Linked DNA regions of Homo sapiens: region 2 is linked to region 1. The links come from fine-mapping of genetic effects on gene expression. A gene starts in region 1. The other region holds a variant in brackets. All regions are shown on one strand. Distances are between the middles of the regions.

What was found. PIP is the estimated chance that this variant, and not a neighbour inherited with it, causes the effect.
Region 2: its variant is fine-mapped to the expression of MINDY2 in lung (TOPMed, PIP above 0.99).

What each region holds. Positions count from the first base shown.
Region 1 is chr15:58,768,980-58,773,374 of GRCh38, reverse strand. It overlaps MINDY2 (MINDY lysine 48 deubiquitinase 2), which reads right to left and starts at 2,073. Exons shown (of 9, transcript NM_001040450.3): 1 at 1,140-2,073. The coding sequence starts at 1,979. It overlaps MINDY2-DT (MINDY2 divergent transcript), which reads left to right and starts at 2,401. Exons shown (of 2, transcript NR_135474.1): 1 at 2,401-2,988. RefSeq lists a silencer at 2,119-2,398 and an enhancer at 2,211-3,136.
Region 2 is chr15:58,377,042-58,381,436 of GRCh38, reverse strand. No RefSeq gene overlaps it. Among named protein-coding and RNA genes, the nearest start is that of LIPC, 53 kb to the left of the region's middle. The variant G/T (reference allele first, on the strand shown) is at 2,458.

The DNA.
Region 1 (4,395 bases):
GATAAAGGCATGTTTGATAAACACTATTCCCTTTACTTGATTTTCTACCTAAGTGTTTAGAAGAATCCAGGTTATTTTTCTTTTTCTTTTAATATAGGGTCTCACTGTATTGCCCAGGCTGGTCTCAAACTTCTGGGCTCAAGCGATTGTCTTGTGTCAGCCTCCAGAGTAGCTGAGCTTACGGAGTAGCTGGGATTACAGGCGCACACCACCACACCCAGTTTGTTTTGTTTTTTTTTCCTAGGAAACATTGCATCTACAGATATAATTATCAATTTGAAAATAAAATAGGTGCTGTGAGATGCATCTTCTCAGCACCCTAACACTGCAAGCTTAAATGAGACACTTCATTTGACAGGTAACTCGCTCTGAGTCCTCAACATACCTATTTTTAAGGGTCTTTCCCTTTTTTGCTCCTTCACCTTAGACATACCTTTTCTTATTTTAGTTCTTTAGAGTTTTAGCTCCCTTAACACATTCGGATGCATGGTTACTGGTAATAATGCCAAACCATTTAAGGAGAGCCAAAGAAATGAGGCAAGTAAAAATCATGCATAAAATGAAAACAATCTTTGAAAACCAAGAAGTTACGGTAATTGGGTCTCAGACCAATGCTTTTCCTTAAATGGAATTTGTCTAAAGAGCCACATCTTCCCCATCACCATTCTCTTAAGTATCTACACACAAATGGGGCATTAGTTGGAAATCAAACTAAATATAACCATGAAAACTTAGTCCATGATATCACGGATTGATGGTAACTTCTGAAGATTACTTTCTCCAATTCTTCACTTTTTTGCATATGTGATAAGGTCAGTAAGAAAATGTAGGAAATTATAGTTTAAAATAATCATAAGATTTAAGATGCTCTAAGTCCTTCTTGTTTCTAAGTGTATCAACCACAATTGAATGTTGAACTCTTAAACACTACAAGAGAAGACTGAGGTTAGGGGCAATTCTTTTCGATATATGTATAAAGGAATATTCCTTCAACATGGAAGTCTTGGAATGAATTTCATGTAAGAAGGGGACTGATGAATGAGGAAAGAAAGGAAGCCATCACCTGACATGCAGCAGCTCCCTCACCCCGTTTTCCTCCACCCCAAAAGCTGTAGGAAGTAGAAAGCTGCAGAATGTACCTTCCAGGCCAGGAGCAAAACATTGAGGATGGCCAGCAAGGGGCAGGGTCCGTTCTCATTCTGGGTGATGATGGGTGTGTTCTCTTCCTTCCACTGGATCCACTTGATGTGATACACAGATTGTCCCGGGAAGCGTTCCTTGGAGGCCGCCAGCACCTGAGCGGTCTCCTCCCCCTCCTCCTCCTTGCACAGAGGAACAGCCCCGGGCAACACCGCCGCGCCCTCCTCCTCCTCAGGGACCCTGTTCTCCGCTCCCTCCTCACTATTGAACTCGCAGCTACTGGGAAAAGAATGCAGGTTAGAGAACGACTCCAGAGAGTCCAGGCTCGGAGATTCCCCAGGAGGGCTCGGGTCGCTGCAACTGCTGCTGAGGCCGCCGGCGCTGCTGGGCTCTTCGGAGCCGGCGGCGGTCAGTTCTGCTTGGCAGGTGCCGGCGAGATCCGGGCGGGCTCCCGCGTCTCCGGCGGTACCCAACTCATGACCCACTCCGGCCACGGCTGTCTCCGGGGAGGCGGTCACCTTGTACTGCCCTCTCAGAGGCGCCTCGGCGGCAGCAGGACTCTCCAAACCACTGTCCTTCAAGTCCAAACCCGCGGAGGAGCTGCAGGGTCCGGGAACCTCAGGAGAGCCCGCGGGAGAAGCCGAGTCCGGGAGGCTCCTCCTGGCGGCCGCCGCCCCCAGCCCATTCCCGCCGCTGGTCTCCGCCGCCCATACCCCAGGACCATCACCAGCGGCGAGCCTGGTCTCCTGTAGCCCTTCCTGCGAAGAACCTGTCCCTGACGCTGGCCCGGCCGCCACCCCGTGTTCTAGCGGCTGCAGGCTCTCGGGGCTGCTCTCCATACCGGGCCGCCCGCCCCCAGCTCTATGGAGACCGCGGCCACTTCTCCGCAGCCAGCGCCTTGGACGCCATGACAGCTGTATTGGCAGCAACAGCGCCCTGGCGCGGCCTCGGTCAGGCACGTCACCGGGGAGAGTACTAAGAACGCGCGCGGGCGCGCGCTACCGCTCTGTCCGTGCGCTCTGAGCTTGCCTCCGCCTGACTGCGCGCTGAGAGGCGAAGGCGAACCACTCAGCAGCCGCCCACGTGGCCCAGCCCTTTCCGTGCGTCCGACCGAGCTCGCTCTCGGAAGGCCGGGCGTGGAGGGCGTGGCTAGGAGGGCGCGGCCGGGGGGCGCGCCCCCGCGGCTCAGCTCCAGTAGGAAAACATCCTCTCACTATGTGGCCGGAAGTTGAACTCCCGGGCAGCTCCCTTGTGTGCGGCTTCTTTAAAGGGAAGGCAGGAGGCGGACAGCTTGGCTGTGACCCTTTAGCGCTGGGTCGCGTGTGGCCCACCCTCGGCCTGAGGCATTGTTGGGTGGTTGGAGGTGGTTGTAGTATTTGGAAAAGAACTTGTCCCTGAAGGGCTCAGGGGACTTGGTTTCTCAGCTCCTAATATGGAAAATTAAGGCATTTCTTACGAGATGCAGATTTTAAAGCAGGCATATCTACTCGACGGCTTTGGATTACTGCACTGCACAAATTCCAGTCTCTGTCGGTTTTGGCTGAGAAGAGCTGTGCTTCTCACCAGCTACTGGTGAGACATTCGCCCTACAGGAAAGGGTCGGTATGATTGTGGACATTGACATGCGTAGCAAAAGAAAGTGGCTAATTTGCGCCAATAATAATAAATTAGCTTGTATTTGAATTAGCCAAGTCTTTGCGGTTTTGCTAACTTGGCTTCACTTTGCATGGAGTGGGAAGCGCCTGCTTCTGAAAAGGTGACTTTTTTCCTAATTAGAATGGACTCCTCTTAAGGCCATGCAGTTTTCAAAGAAGAAAGACAAGCTGGACGTTTTGTTAGTAACAAAATGTATGTGGGTCCTATTCTAACTTGTTACAGAAAAGGGCTTTTTCCCCCATCTTTTTTCTTTCAACATTTTCTAGGCTGTTGGGGATAAAAAATTAACGAGACAGGTCTTCCTTCGCAGACATATAAATACCTGATACATAATTAGAATGTGATATTTTTGCACCTCTGTTGGTTAGAGAAGGCAGACAAGATTGCAAAGTAGTATTTCATTCATTCCTTTAATACATTTTAGTACCAAGTAAGTTGCTGGATGCTGTCTGTCACTGGAGATGCCATAGTGGATCACGGAGCTTATATCTTCATGGAGCTTACTGTCTTTTTTTTTCTTATTGCTATTTTTTAATACATACTTATATGTTTTTTTGTTTTTGTTTTTGCTTTTGTTTTTTTTTTTTTTTGAAACGGAGTCTCTCTCTGTCGCCCAGGCTGGAGTGCAGTGGCACGATCTTGGCTCACTGCAACCTCCGCCTCCCGGGTTCAAGCGATTCTCCTGCCTCAGCCTCCCGAGTAGCTGGGACTATAGGCGCCCGCCACCATGCCTGGCTAATTTGTTGTTGTTGTTGTTTTTGAGACGGAGTCTTGCTCTGTCGCCCAGGCTGGCGTGCAGTGGCGCGATCTCGGCTCACTGCAAGCTCCGCCTCCCGGGTTCACGCCATTCTCCTGCCTCAGCCTCCTGAGTAGCTGGGACTACAGGCGCCCGCCACCACGCCCAGCTAACTTTTTGTATTTTTAGTAGAGACGGGGTTTCACCGTGTTAGCCAGGATGGTCTTGATCTCCTGACCTCGTGATCTGCCCACCTCGGCCCCCAAAGTGCTAGGATTACAGGCGTGAGCCACCATGCCCGGCCACACATAATATGTATTACATATAATACATGAATGTTGGATACTTATATTCTTGTTTACCTGAGAATGCAGAAGACTGTGCCCCTTTTTTTTTTTTTTTTTTTTTTTTTCCCACTTGAGACGCAGTCTCGCTTTGTCACCCAGGCTATAGTACAGTGGCGCCATCTCAGCTCATTGCAACCTCCACCTCCCGGGTTCAAGTGATTCTCCTGCCTCAGCCTCCCAAGTAGCTGGGACTACAGGCGCACGCCACCAGGTCCAGCTAATTTTTTTTGTATTTTTAGTAAAGACGAGGTTTCACTACCTTGGCCAGGCTGGTCTCTAACTTCTGACCTTGTGATCCGCATTGACATGATACTATGGTATATGTCCAACTGTAGGGTCCAGCCTTACGGGGCTTAGCGGGTGTTCTCCCCGTGTTCAGAGACGAGAGATTGTAATAAATAAAGACACAAGACAGAGAGATAAAGAGAAAACAGCTAGGCCCGGCGGACCGCTACCGTAAAGATGCGGAGACCGGTAGTGGCCCCGAACGGCTGGGCTCGCTGATATTTATTGCAT
Region 2 (4,395 bases), 390 kb after region 1:
CTAGGGTCAAGACCAGGCCTGTGTTACCTATGTTAAGGGAATAATTTAGTCTACAAAAACAGGTAAATAGTTTTGCTACAAGTAAAAAGCTGATGTTCCTAGAAAGTCTGGGCCAAAGATGGATCAGCCCAGAACATTTGTCTTAACAATGAAATAAGTAATCACAATCAGACACTTTTTTTTTTTCTTTTGAGACAGAGTCTCACTTTGTCACCCAGGCTGGGGTGCAGTGGCCCCATCTTGGCTCACTGCGCCCTACACTTTCCAGGTTCAAGCGATTCTCCTGCCTCTGCCTCCTGAGTAGCTGGGACTACGGGGACACACCACCGCCCCCTGCCGCCCCCCAGCTAATTTTTGTATTTTTAGTAGAGACAGAGTTTCACCATGTTAGCCAGGCTGGTCTCAAACTCCTGACCTCAAGTGATCTGCCCGCCTTGGCCTCCCAAAGTGCTGGGATTACAGGCATGAGCCACGGCACCCAGTCATCAGACACTTATTTTGTAAAGAATTATTGAATTCACCCATACATGGTCTGTGTGGATATAGTCTGGAATCCAGGTGAGAACTGATGGAGTATTTATGGAGAAATGGCTGATTATAGGACAAGGATTTCTAAATATTCTAGGGAACTGACTAATATTTCCAAAGATTTCCTATTCTCCAAGCACAGGAACCAGCTGGAGTGGAGCCAAGGCTCAGGCTTGGTCGGGGCAGAGCAACTCCTCTATTTCACTTGTTAGATGTCCTAAACCATTTTGTCCAATGTTATTGATGCAAATTGGTGGTTGTGATGGTTAATTTTATGTGTCAACCTGACGGGGCCTTGGGTGTCTAGACTTTTGGCTAAACGTTATTCTGGTGTATCTGAGAGGATGTTTTTTGATGGGACTAACATTTAAATTGATAGACAGACTGAGTAAAACAGATTGCTCTCTCTAATGGGGCTGGGCCTCATCCAATCAGTTGAAGACCTGAATAGAAAAAAAAGGCCAAGTAGGAGGAAGTTCCTTCTGCCTGACTGCTTGAGCTGGGACACTGGTCTTTTCTGCCTTTTGGCTCAGACTAAAACATTGGCTGTTTTTGGGTCTCAAGCCTGCTGGTTTTTGGACTAGAACTTTCACCATCTACTCTCTCGATTCTCAGGCCTTCAGACTCAAACTGGAACTATACTTTGACTCTCCTCAGTCTCCAGCTGCCTGACCACAGATCTCGGGACTTCTCAGCCCCCATAATCTTGTGAACCAATTCCTTATTTTATATATGTATACTGTCATGCTCTGCATAATGACATTTAGGTCAATGATAGATCACATATACAATGGTGGTCCCATAAGATTATACTACTTTAGCTTTTCTATGTTTAGATATGTTTAGATACACAAATACTTACCACTGTGTTACAACTGCTGTCAGTATTCAGTACAGTAACATGCAGTACAGGGTTTTTAGCCTAGGACCGATAGGCTCTATCATATAGCCTAGTTGTATATTTGACTGTATCGTGTAAATTTGTGTAAGTACACTTTATGTTGTTCCTGTAACTGAAATGCAGATCCAGTCATTCACTGCTTGCAGAGTCCAATTAACAAGAGTGAGGTCTGATATAAAGGAACTGCTTTATATTCTATTATAAAGACACATGCACATGTATGTTCATTGCAGCACTATTCACAATAGCAAAGACATGGAATCAGCCTAAATGCCTATCAGTGGTAGACTGAATAAAGAAATGTGGTACATATACACCATGGAATACTATATAGCCATAAAAAAGGAGTGAGGTCATGCCCTTTCCAGAGACATGGATAGAGCTAGAGGCCATTATCCTTAGCAAACTAATGCAGGAACAAAAAATCAAATACTATGTGTTCTCACTTGTAAGTGGAAGCTAAATGATGAGAACACATGGACACACAGAGGGGAACAACACACACTGGGGCTTATTGGAGAGTGGGGGTGGGAGGAGGGAGAAGATCAGAAAGAATAGCTAGTGAATGCTGGGCTTAATACTGGGGTAATAAAATAATCTGTACAACAAACTCCCATGACACAAATTTACCTGTATAACAAACCTGCGCATGTACCCCTGAAATTAAACTAAAAGTTAAAAAAAATTCTTCCAATCTATGAACATGAGATGTCTTCCCATTTATTTGTGTCTTTTAAATTTCCTCCATCGATCTTTTATAATTTTCAATGTACAAATTTTTCATCTCTTTCGCTAAGTTAATTACTAAGTGGTTTCTTTTCGTTGCTAATATAAATGAGATTGTTGTTGGTGTATAAAATCACCATTGATTTTTGCATCTTGATTTTGTATCCTGTAACGTTAATAAATTTGTTTATTAGTTCTAAAAAAAGTGATATATTATATTTCAAAGCTAGCTTAGGGGAAGAAGTACAGGCTTCTTGTCTTAAGGGTAGCAGGTGCAGAAAGTAGGAATTATTTTAAAAGGG[G/T]GCTTGGCATGAATGGCATGCAGGGGAGAAAGCAATTGGATGGAGGTCCACATAATTCGCTTCAGTGCCTTATCTACTGGGCCATTGAGCTGGCGCCTTCATGGGCAGAACTAGGTTTTAAAAGTGTCTGAAACTCTCCAGGTGGGAGAGAATTTTGTAGTGGGCATACTTAGGCTTGTAAATTGAGTGTTGCTCTCGAGGCAATCTTCAGCCGGGAGAGAGTTCCACTCTGGAGCCCCTAAGCATATAGTTAGATGAACTTGCCCTGTAGGGAATGTCTGGTGATGGGGAGGTCTAAGTAGGAAGTGAGGAACAGGGGAAAAGGAGAAAGGAGAAAAGAAAAGAAAAAAATCATTCTGTTTTTCTTAGACGAATGGGAGTACTTGGTTACATTCCTACAATGACAAAGCTGCCTTCATGACTCATTTCTCAGAAAACAGTGCTGTAGTTAAGCGATGCATGACTCTATCTGTCTATCTATCTGTCTGTCTATCTATCTATCTATCTATCTGTCTATCTATCTATCTATCTACCTATCATCTATCTATCTATCTAATCTCCTATTGGTTCTATTTCACTGGAGAGCCCTGCCTAATACAGTTGTTTTAATTATTCCTCATTTCCAATGTACTTTCCTCCTTGACTTTCATTATGGGTGGAGCAGGCTCTGTTTGATTCTAAAATTATATGAGGAAAATATAAAGAGATAACCACAAAATTGCTAATTTTTTTGGTGGAGGGAATCTGTTATGTGGATAAAGGATTAGTCTTAATACTATATTCAAGTTAAGTTATTAATTCACTGAATTTTTATGGAGCACCTACTGTGTGGTAGGACTATTCCAAAGAAGCAATGATTTCTGCCCTTGTGTATGTATGTTTTATTTTTATTTTTTAATTATTATTTTCTTTGAGATGGAGCCTTCCTCTGTCGTCCAGGCTGGGGTGCAGTGGCGCGATCTCAGCTTACTGCAAACTCTGCCTCCTGGGTTCAAGTGATTCTCCTGCCTCAGCCTCCTGAGTAGCTGGGACTACAGGCGCCCACCACCACGCCCAGCTAATTTTTGTACTTTTAATAGAGATGGGGTTTCGCCATGTTGGCCAGTCTGGTCTCAAACTCCTGACCTCAAGTGATCTGCCCTCCTTGGCCTCCCAAAGTGCTGGGATTACAGGCATTAGCCACCCTGCCAGCTGTGTGTTTATGTTTTAAACAAAGGATAGAGACAATAAGCATGATAAATAAGTCTAACTATATTGTGTGTTAGAGAAAAATAAAGCAGGAAAGGGGAGTGGGGAGGGGTTCAATTTTAAGTAGGGAAGTCCTAAAGGGCTGCATTGAGAACTGTATTAGAAAAATGACCTGTACGAAAGTGTATTAGCTTCCTATTGTTGCTGTGACAAATGACCACAAACTTAATGGCTTAAAACAACACAAATTTATTCTCTTAGAATCCTGGAAGTGAGAAGTCCCAAATTGGGCTCCTGGGACTAAAATTAAGGTGTCAGCAGGGCTGTGTTTCGTTTGGAGGCTGTAGGAGAGAATTCATTTTCATGCCTTTTCCAGTGTCTCTAGGCTACATTCCTTGGCTTGTGGCCTCTTCCTCCATATTCAAAGCCAGCATTATCAGGCCAACTCCTTCTCACACTGTCATTTTTTTAGTTCTTGTTCCTTTGCCTCCTTCTTCCATTTATAAGGACTCTTGTGATTTCACTGGGCCCCCTTAGATCTTCCAGGATGTAGAATACCAAAACTATGCCACTCCAAAATACGACTGTAGGAGGCCAGAATGTGCTACTCCAAAATATGCCTCTTTAGCATGAGGATTATTTTTGAGCTAATTATTCTAAGAAACTGTAGACACCAGAGTAACTCTAAAAACAAAGAGTAGAAGTTACCCTTTTGTAAGGGAATTGTATTTTCTAAAGGAAATCCCCATT